3 separate regions of the Homo sapiens genome follow, and regions 2 and 3 are each reported to be linked to region 1. The links are microRNA targets in miRTarBase. Many come from high-throughput screens and were not tested one by one. Region 1 holds a microRNA gene; each other region holds the end of a gene's coding sequence.

Region 1 (3,620 bases):
TTATACCTAAATCTAGACCTAAGAGAGTTTTTACTTTTTTTGTTTTGTTCCCCAAAGGATTTAAAGCTAGCTTAAAAACAAACAAAAAAAACTTGGTTAGTTTTACTTGTGAAATAACTTCATTTTCCTAAAAACCTCTATCCTCCTTGGACAGCAGTCTTGGTAGTCTTAAGGAGATTTAAAAAAAATTATCAGAATGAGGTTAAGTGCTAACTAATAGTTGTGTTACTAAGATTTCTGCCTTGCCTTGCCTTCCCTGCCTGCCAGTGTTTTTCAGTTTTCAAACTGCTTGAGGGTTTGAGACTCCTAAAAGCAGAATCAGGACGGTGGAGAGTTCTCAGTGGAGCTGGGAATTTCCCCGGGGTCTCTTCCAGGGAAGAACTGCTCGAGGATGAGTCCCACCATCTGTCTCTTAAACCCAAAAAGGTTGTGGCGAATTCTCGCACCAGCCTCCTTTTTCTCTCTACTTTTGACACGGAACGCTGCTCTTCCTTCCCTTGCTGAGTTTCTCTCAAATATAATAGGAAGATTAGGGTTGCTTCTGCTCCCTCCCTGAGAGATCTGTTGAAATATCCAGTATTTGGGTTTTGGTTTGGGGTCCAAATATTTAGTTTTGAGAGATACACTTTACCTTAGAGTTAAGTGCACCTTTTGCCCTGGGTTATGCCAGATCTCACTTTAGACCTTGGCCCTTAACTTACTGGGTCTCTCTTTGTATTTTTTCCTTCTAGTGCATAGATTTACTTTTAACTCCTCAAGGGAGTACTGCCAAGGACTTTGCCTTTGCCTACTGGAAGCCCAGGCAGTGGAGAGAGGCCAAGGCATCTAGTGGCTACTGGACAACATTCCTTGCTTAATGCTGGTCAAAAAATGGTTATAAATTTACTCTGATTTCAAATACATCACAGAAGCTCATCATTTAAAGAAGCCCTAAGAGGAGTCTTTTTGTAAAGTTATGAGTTTTGCTAATAGATTTTGTTTTGAAAAAGCAACATAGAATGCCACCACTTCACTTTTTGATTTGTATTTGTACCTATTGGGTCTTCTTAAAGGAGAGTTCACCTCCATTTAGAAAGAATGAGAACCTTCTGCACAGAGACTTAAAGTGTCAAAATTTTATGCCTTAATTTGGCGTCTGATCAGAATTTTATCTGTACTTGCTCAATTACGTAAGTCATCTTATCTCTTTGGTTTTGGAAAAATGACAGTTGTATACTCTTAGGATGGGATAAGATTTGGGCAACGTTCCTACAAGGGAACCACGAGCATTTCCTTTCCAAAAACTGGTCCAGCCTAGGGCTGGATCAGGGGGTCCTGGGGGGCTCCATTCCAGCCCAGTGAAGGCAGAATATCTTGTCTTGGAAAGACTCTGGGAAGTTAGTTCATTTCAGTCTGTGCTGTGAGCTAGCCAGCAGTGGCTCTGAAATGAACTCAAACTCTAGGGTCACTTCCTCTTGGTCTAACTTCTGGGGATACATATTAAACAAGTCATCCCAGTGGCTAAGCACAGACCCTGGAGGCAGACCACCTGTGTGCAAATCCACGCTCTTCTGACTGCTGGCTGCACAGCACCTGTGAGGGGGACTCAGCTGCTCACCTGGGCAGGAACACATCCATCCTGGCTCTCCTCAGGCTGGTGGTCCAGAGGTGGATGGTGCTGGCTGTGAGGTGTGGCTCGATGTGGCTCAGGGGGGTGTCTTTGTCACGGGGCAGCACCAGGAACAGACTCACTGCACTTCCCAGGTAAGGAAGCTCCAGCACCCCCACCTGATGGCCTGCAGTGTCCTGGAACTGACCTGAGGGTACAGTGGATCAGAGGTCAGCTCTGTCCCAGGAGCCAGGAGAATGAACCAGTGTCGGACCCTGAGAGAGGCTGGCTCAGAGGACTGGAAACAATAAAACCGAGCATCCACCTCACCCTCAGGAGGCGGTTTCAGGCCAAAGACTGTTGGGCGATATGGTCATTTTATAAAAATCCTAGACCTAGAGTCTTTAAGATACCCTCACAGGACCAGAGTTAGAGGTTCTCTAGGACTGGGTATGGGGGGGGGGACGATGGCACATGCAGAACCACATAGAGTAGTGCCCCCTTATCCTTGGCAGATATGCTCCAAGAACCCCAGTAGAGGCCTGAACCTGTGGATGGTAACGAGCCCTGCATATACTATGTTTTCTCGATCTGATGACTGAGATGGCTACTAAGTGACCAACGGGCATACTGTAGACAGCCTGGGGATGCTGGACAAAGGGATGGTTCATATCTCAGGTGGAACAGAGAAGGACGTCAGGAAATTTCACCACACTATTCAGAAGGGCGTGCAGTTTAAAACTTGAGAATTATTTGTGAAATTTTCCATTTAATATTTTCTGATGCGGATAACTGAAACCTCAAAAAAGCAAAATCATGGATAAGGGTACAGGGTACTACTGTACCCGATCTTAAAGGAGCAGCCATTCAATCCCGGCCTATTGTGCCTGCCAGGGTGGCAGTTTGGTCCAAACTCTACTAGTGCAGAAGGAAATGTCAGGCATGAAACTGAGTTTCTCTTCCACATCTGTGTCCTCACTGTCCTGTCAGAGCACACTGTCCCACACTCCTCTCTAAAGTCTCCGGGCACCTTAGTCTTTCCTTCCGCCATGCATGCCCAGTCCAGCAGATGGACCCTGCGGAAACACATCCCGATCCCTTAGGAGCAGGGACCTGGCCTCCTCTCTCCTGCCCTCAGGCCCAGGCTTCCTCTCCCTTTAGACAAACCAGCAGGGGCAGAGCTCACCGTAGTTGACCTCGGTCGTTTGGTGCATCATGGGGACCTGAAGGACGAGGCCATAGGCACAGGTGAAAGGCAGGATCTGTGTGTCTGTGGAGGAGAATCTCTTTCGCCAAGTGCCTTGGAAGGACATGGTGCTCACAAGCACAAGCTGAGCAAATGCTGCACTGACTTGCTCCCACGGCCAGCCACCAGGGCCCTCACTGGGGCCCCCACCTGCAAGCAGGAAAGCAAGGTGGCCATGGGTTAAATGTGCATTGAAACTGAACCGAACCCAGTGTGTGTGCGGACAAGGAGTGCAGAGTTAAAATGCGAAAATGCAGGTCTTTTTGCTTAAGGTGGTCTCTCTCTTCATCTTACAATATCTTTTTAGTCTACTTAAGAATATTTAATTCCCTGTCTCAGCTCCTTGTGCTGTCAGGGACCCAAGGCACCAGGAGCTGCTCTCAACTTTTGGGGACTGTTGAGCGATATGGTCATTTTATAAAAATCCTAGACCTAGAGTCTTTAAGATAACCTCACAGGGCCAGAGTCAGAGGCTCTGTAGGGCTGGGTATGGGGGCGACAATGACAACCCCTGCTGGGGGATGAGGGTGTGGAGAGGGAAATGGAAAGTGAGAACTCAGAAGTCCTGACACCTGGGTGACCAGTCAGGGGAGGTGGGGGCAGTGAGTCATCTCTGGAGTTGGGTTGGTAGAGTATTTATTAAAATATGTTCATTGCAAATTGATATGTGTTTATAACCAGCTGTTGCTGAAGACCCTGCTTTTTATTCTTTTCTGAACAGGTTGGGATGCTGCTCCTGGTTCTGTTTGGGGCCATTTCCTAGGAATTATTAGACATTCCCTCCCC
Region 2 (3,000 bases), not on the chromosome of region 1:
GCCCATCTCGGCCTCTCAAAGTGCTGGGATTACATGTGTGAGCCACCACACCTGGCCCCGGCCTCTCACTTCTAATAGCTACAACCTCTTTCCTTTTTCTCTCTAGCCCTAGGCAGTTCCCTCAGTTACACTTTGTGATACTATGGTCCCTTTCTGCGTTTCTAGTAGTCCTGCACCTGGTTAACATGTCCCTCTATTAAATTCTTTCTGTTAAAGCACCTGGTGTGGTTTTCGTTCGCTTGGCTGACAGATCCCACTTAGCTGGTGTTCTCACCTGGAATTGCTAGACAGCAGCTGCCCCCTTTGGTCAGGTATATGCTCTTCTGTTCCCCTCTTCCTGCTCCCTACTTTTTTCATTTTTATTTTTATTTTTTTGATACCGGGTCTCGCTCTGTCACCCAGGCTGGGGTGCAGTGGTATGATCATGGCTCACTGCAGCCTTGACTTCCTGGGCTCCAGCGATTCTCCCACTCCAGCCTCCCAAGTAGCTAGGTCCACAGGTACACGCTACTACACTCCTGATCTCAAGCAATCCACCCACCTTGGCCTCCCAAAGTATTGGGATTATAGGTGTGAGCCACTGCACCCAGCCCCCACTTTTCTACATCTTGCTGACTCTGTATGCCTGACCCTAAGGGGATCTGATTTGTGCTCCTGTCTAATGTAATAACGCCCATTGATTGAGCATCACCTATGTGCCAGAGTCTGTGCATAAGACTTTATGTAATTATCTCATGCAGTTCTCAACATAATACCGTGAGGTGGGCACTGTTATGCTCCCCATTGTACAGATGAGAACATTAAGGCTGGGAGAGGGGAGGACTTGACCAAAATCACAGCCAGGGCCAGCATTGGTGGCTCACGCCTGTAATCCTAGCACTTTGGGAGGTCGAGGCAGGTGGATCACCTGAGGTCAGGAGTTTGAGACCAGCCTGGCCAATATGGTGAAAACCCATCTCTACCAAAAATACAAAAATTAGCCAGGTGTGGTGGCAGGTGCCTATAATCCTAGCTACTCAGGAGGCTGAGGCAGGAGAATCACTTGAATATGGTGGGTGGAGGTTGCAGTGAGCTGAGATCACACCACTTCACTCCAGGCTGGGCAAAAGAGCAAAACTCTGTCTCAAGAAAAAGAAAGAAAGAAAGAAAGAAAGAAAATAAAATCACAGCCAGGCAGTGGCAGAGCTGGCCACAGGGACCCATCATTCCTATAAAATGAGGCTAACCACATTGTTCCCAAGTCAGTAAGTTCATACTTCTATCGTGAAAACTGTGTTTTATTTATATGTTTAATAAATATCTGATCTGTGCACTCTGGGCTCCCGTTAAATTAGGTTACATACAAGTACTTGAAATCAAAACCTCAGAAGTTACCCTTCTGAGTTTTGAGAACAGCATGTCTGTGACCATCAAGAACTCAGTTCAAGTTCAGGATATCAATCACATAGCATGGTGACCATAGTTAATAACAATGTATTGTATACTTTGCAAATTGCTGACAGTAGGTTTTTACTGTTCTCATCATAAAAAAAGGGTATGTGAGGGATACATATGTTAATTAGCTTGATTTAGCCATTCCACATATTTCAAAACATGTTGTACACTACAAATACATGCAATTTTTATTTGTCTTTTTTTTTTTTTTTTAATTTTAGAGAAACGATCTTGCTCTGTCGCCCAGGCTGGAGTGCAGTGGCTTGATCGTACCTCACTGCAGCCCTGAACTCCTGGGCTCAAGCAGTCCTCCTGCCTCAGCCTCTTGAGTAGCTGGAACCGCAGGTATGTACAGGTATGTACCGCCACATTTGGTCATTAAAAAAAAATTGTAGAGATGGGGGTCTCACTATGTTGCCCAGGTTGGTCTTGAACTCTCAGCTTCAAGCGACCCTTAGCCTGAGCCTCCCAAAGTGCGAGGATTACAGTTGTGAGCCCCCATGCCTGGCTGCCATTTAGTTTCTGATGATCATTTTCCTGCCTTTTTTTTTGGGTGCAAAAAAAATGGTTTTAGTCCTCAGCATCTTACCTGCATCAGGTTCACCAAGGGGCCCCAGCCCGATGGCTCCCTGCCTCAAAGCAGTGGACCATCCATCTCTCCCAGGATGGCTCGGTAGCACCTGAGAGCGCATGCAGATAGCCTGGGATTTGAGAAAAACCATGAACCCAGACAGATCACAGCTTGCAGAGCTCAGGGTCCCTTGCTGTCCTCTGAGAGCAGTGACCTCCCAGAATCTTCCTGCTGGTCCAGGTACTGTGAAGCCTCAGGCCCCACACCCACCCTCTGCCTTCCATCCTTGCAGCTGGGTTGCACAGCAGTACTGCCCAAATGAGATGCCCCTGCCCGGGCTGGTGCCAACATTCAGACCACATGGAAGGAAAAGTGTTCTGTTTATTGGTCTGGCTTGGTCTCCTGTGCGTCTCTCAGAATGCTGCTCTGCCCTTGTGGGCTCAGGGGTCGCAGTGGTGGTCACACTGGGGCCTGCCTCTGCTGCCCACCTGGAAGTGGCCTCAGTCAGTCTTCCTGAACCCTGGAAGGCAAAGACCACAGGATGGCATGGGATTCTGAAGGCAGCCAGGCTTCATCCCCACCATCACCTCAGATGCCCAAGTACCCCTCACAGCTGGCATGATGTAGTCACCCCAGAAGCCATGGGTCTCAATGAACCACAGTCATAATAGCTAGTTTTCTTTTTCTTCATTACATGGATTAAAGGAGACAGATATTTCCCCAGCACAGCCACACAGCCACTTGGCCTCTCCATTCTGAGGCATAAGGTGGTCACAGAGCTGTTAGTCAAGAAAGACGATGTGCTTTCGCCCAGCCCAGCCACTAAAGCTGTGTGACTGTGGGCGAGTCACTCCACCTCTCTGAGCCTCATTTTCCTATTGGTCAAGTGTAACATTGCTAAAGCCTACCTCCCCAGTTGCTATTAGGCAAGTACAGCCATGGAGAAGACAGCGTTTGGGGAAGTGTAAAGTTCTATAAGAGAATGAAGACTAACC
Region 3 (3,000 bases), not on the chromosome of region 1:
GCTGAGGGCCGCGGTGTGGGTGCGCGGAGCAGTCAGGGCGCAGGTGGGCAGCGCGCACGGCCTGCCAGCCCGGGGCGCCAGAATCCTGCGCTGCGGGGCCGAGAGGGGCGCCGCGCCCGCCGCAGCCTGGAGCTTTCCGCGAACCTCGGGGCGCCCATGACGGCGGCGGCGACGGCTACCGTGCTCAAGGAGGGCGTGCTGGAGAAGCGCAGCGGCGGGCTGCTGCAGCTGTGGAAGCGGAAGCGCTGCGTCCTCACCGAACGCGGGCTGCAGCTCTTCGAGGCCAAGGGCACGGGCGGCCGGCCCAAGGAGCTCAGCTTCGCCCGCATCAAGGCCGTGGAGTGCGTGGAGAGCACCGGGCGCCACATCTACTTCACGCTGGTGACCGAAGGGGGCGGCGAGATCGACTTCCGCTGCCCCCTGGAAGATCCCGGCTGGAACGCCCAGATCACCCTAGGCCTGGTCAAGTTCAAGAACCAGCAGGCCATCCAGACAGTGCGGGCCCGGCAGAGCCTCGGGACCGGGACCCTCGTGTCCTAAACCACCGGGCGCACCATCTTTCCTTCATGCTACCCACCACCTCAGTGCTGAGGTCAAGGCAGGTAAGCCCCCGGGGGACTGGGCCCTCTTCTCTCCTTCCCTCCCTTCTCTTTCCCCTACAGAGAGAATGAGGACTAGCATTCTACTTCAGAGCCGGACATCTTAGGGGGGAGGTTCCTGGGGCCAACTGAGGGCATGGGAGGCTTGGGCCAGTGGCCAACCCAGCAGATCCGGACTTTCCCCTGAGGCACCAGGTTGGCCGGTCCAGAATGTGATCCAGGTGTGTGAGAGGAAGATGGAAGCCCTGGGAGGGGGATACCTGGGTGAGATGAGCCTTCTTTCAAGTTGGTTCAGCCCTGACTCAGGTGGAAGGAAGTAGAGGGAGGTTGGCCTGCACATTGCCCCAGGCTGTGGGCCTCTGCTTTCCACGCAGAGCAGGGCTCCTGGACTTCGGCTTTCTGGCAGCTGAGGACAACCGAGGGTGGGGACGCGGATCGTGGAGGCCGACCCTCTTTCCCTCTAGGTTGAATGCTTGTCATAAAGTTTGAGCATTGAATTGATGTAGAAAGACAGTATCTCCCAGATGGCGAAGGCACCATCAAGGGTTGCAAATAGAGCCAAGGAGTCCGGCTCCCAAGGTGGGGCCTCAGTGGAAGGTGGGGCCTCAGTGGGCCGCCTTGGCTGGACTGGGCCTGAGGGATCCAGCTCCTCCTCTACATATGTGTGTGTGTGTGTGTGTGTGTGTGTGTGTGTGTGTGTGTGTATGGTTTGTTGTTGTTGTTGTTGTTGTTTGAGACAGAGTCTCGCTGTGTCACCCAGGCTGGAGTACAGTCGTGTGATCTTGGCTCATTGCAACCTCTACCTCCTGGGCTCAAGCAAATCTCCTGCTTCAGCTTCCAGAACAGCTGGGATTACAGGTGCCTGCCACCACACCCTGCTAATTTTTGTATTTTTAGTAGAGATGGGGTTTCGCCATGTTGGCCAGGCTGGTCTTGAACTCCTGACCTCAGGTGATCTGCCTGCCTCGGCCTCCCCAAGTGCTGGGATTACAGGTGTGAGCCACTGCACCCAGCCTATATATATATTTTTGAGACAGGATCTCTACCTGTCGCCCAGACTGGTGCAGTAGCATAGTCATGGCTCACTGCAGCCTCAACAGCTTCAACCTCTTGGGCTCAAGCGATCCTCCCACCTCAGCCTCCAGGTAGCTGGGACTACAGGCACACGCCACCATGCCTGGCTAATTTTTTTTTTTGTAGATTTGGGGTTTCCCCACGTTGCCCATGCTGGTTTCGAACTCCTGAGCTCAAGCAATCTGCCCACCTTGGCCTCCCAAAGTGCTAAGATTACAGGTGTAAGCCACCACACCTGGTCCCCATTCTTGACAGTGGGTTTTGAGCCCTAGGGCTCACTGTTAGGAGAGCAAGGGAGCTGAAGGATAGGCAACTGCGCCAGAGGCTGGGCCACTGATGCCAAGGGGTGGGGGCCTAGCTGTCTACCTGCCCCTGAGTGCCAGTCAGGCCTGGCTGGGCCAGGGAAGGAGAAGCTGGAGGAGGGCATGGGGCACTGGGGCAGGGTGGGTGGGTGCAGCAGGATGGGGTCATGAGTTGTTATTTGTGATGTCTTAATCCTCTATGAGCAGTAGGGCAGGGAGTGGGGGGCGGATTTGTGGTCAGGAAGGCCCAGGGGAGGGGCCAGGAATAGAATCTGGAAGCCCTGGCTCTCAGCCCTGTGCCCTCTTCCCCAGATGCCACTCCCTTCTTGTGAGAAGTAGGAGTAGGGCTGAGAAAGGATTTAGCCTTCCTTCTAGCCTTAATTTTTCCAGTGGAAACCTAGATCCTTCTCTCCCCACTACCACCTCCTAGGCGACCTTACCCGCCTGCAGATGTCTTCAACAGTAGAGAGTCCTAGTGAGCCTGGGGCCCCATCTAGTGCCATACCCCACTTTGATGGTCCTGTTAATGCCCTCCCACATTGTAGTTAGGGTTTAGCTGAGAAGTGGGGTATAAGGCAGACCCCCTGTGCTGAGGATTGATCCACATTGATCCCTCAGGTCTTGGGGGCCTGGGAGGAAGCAGATTCCTTTACCACAGTACGTATGCAAAAAATGTTTTCCATGTTTATGGAAAAGGCTGGGAAGTGCTGGTGTAAAATGCCCAAGCTCATAATAGATACTCCTTTCTCCATTGTTGCCCCTGCTCTAACTGCTGTTCTTTCTTGCCAGCTTCGTTGTTCCCTCTGGCTTGTGGGGGCACGGCTGTGCTCCATGTGGCAAGGTGGAAGGCATGGACGTGTGGAGGAGGCGCTGGAGCTGAAGGAATGGACGAGCCCTGGGAGGAGGGCAGAAGGCTACGCAGGGCTGAGGATGAAGATGCAGCCCCTGGATGGTCCCAGACTCTCAGGACATGCCCAGCTCAGGGGCTTCGAGCCACAGGCCTGGCCTCATATGGCATGAGGGGG

What was found. The annotated mature microRNA hsa-miR-5693 reads GCAGUGGCUCUGAAAUGAACUC and lies in region 1 at 1,412-1,433, shown strand. An mRNA with a match to its seed (bases 2 to 7 or 8) in the 3' UTR can be bound and repressed. Matches are read on the target gene's strand: a 7mer-m8 pairs with bases 2 to 8, a 7mer-A1 pairs with bases 2 to 7 and ends in A, and an 8mer does both.
Region 2: the mRNA of TMEM40 is a reported target of hsa-miR-5693. Seed matches in the 3' UTR shown: 7mer-m8 at 1,691-1,697.
Region 3: miRTarBase lists PHLDA3 as a target of hsa-miR-5693. The part of its 3' UTR that is shown has no 7-base or 8-base seed match.

What each region holds. Positions count from the first base shown.
Region 1 is chr13:51,346,389-51,350,008 of GRCh38, reverse strand. MIR5693 (microRNA 5693) reads left to right here and starts at 1,370; the gene lies at 1,370-1,442. SERPINE3 (serpin family E member 3) reads right to left here. Exons shown (of 10, transcript NM_001386375.1): 5 at 2,775-2,984; 6 at 1,598-1,796. It also overlaps a transcript of INTS6 not described here.
Region 2 is chr3:12,732,269-12,735,268 of GRCh38, forward strand. TMEM40 (transmembrane protein 40) reads right to left here. Exons shown (of 12, transcript NM_018306.4): 12 at 1,260-2,525. The coding sequence ends at 2,506. Among named protein-coding and RNA genes, the nearest start is that of TMEM40, 25 kb to the right of the region's middle.
Region 3 is chr1:201,465,943-201,468,942 of GRCh38, reverse strand. It overlaps PHLDA3 (pleckstrin homology like domain family A member 3), which reads left to right. Exons shown (of 2, transcript NM_012396.5): 1 at 1-602; 2 at 2,765-3,000. The coding sequence starts at 157. The coding sequence ends at 540. Among named protein-coding and RNA genes, the nearest start is that of PHLDA3, 1.7 kb to the left of the region's middle. RefSeq lists enhancers at 1-84, 306-445, 516-575 and a silencer at 1-235.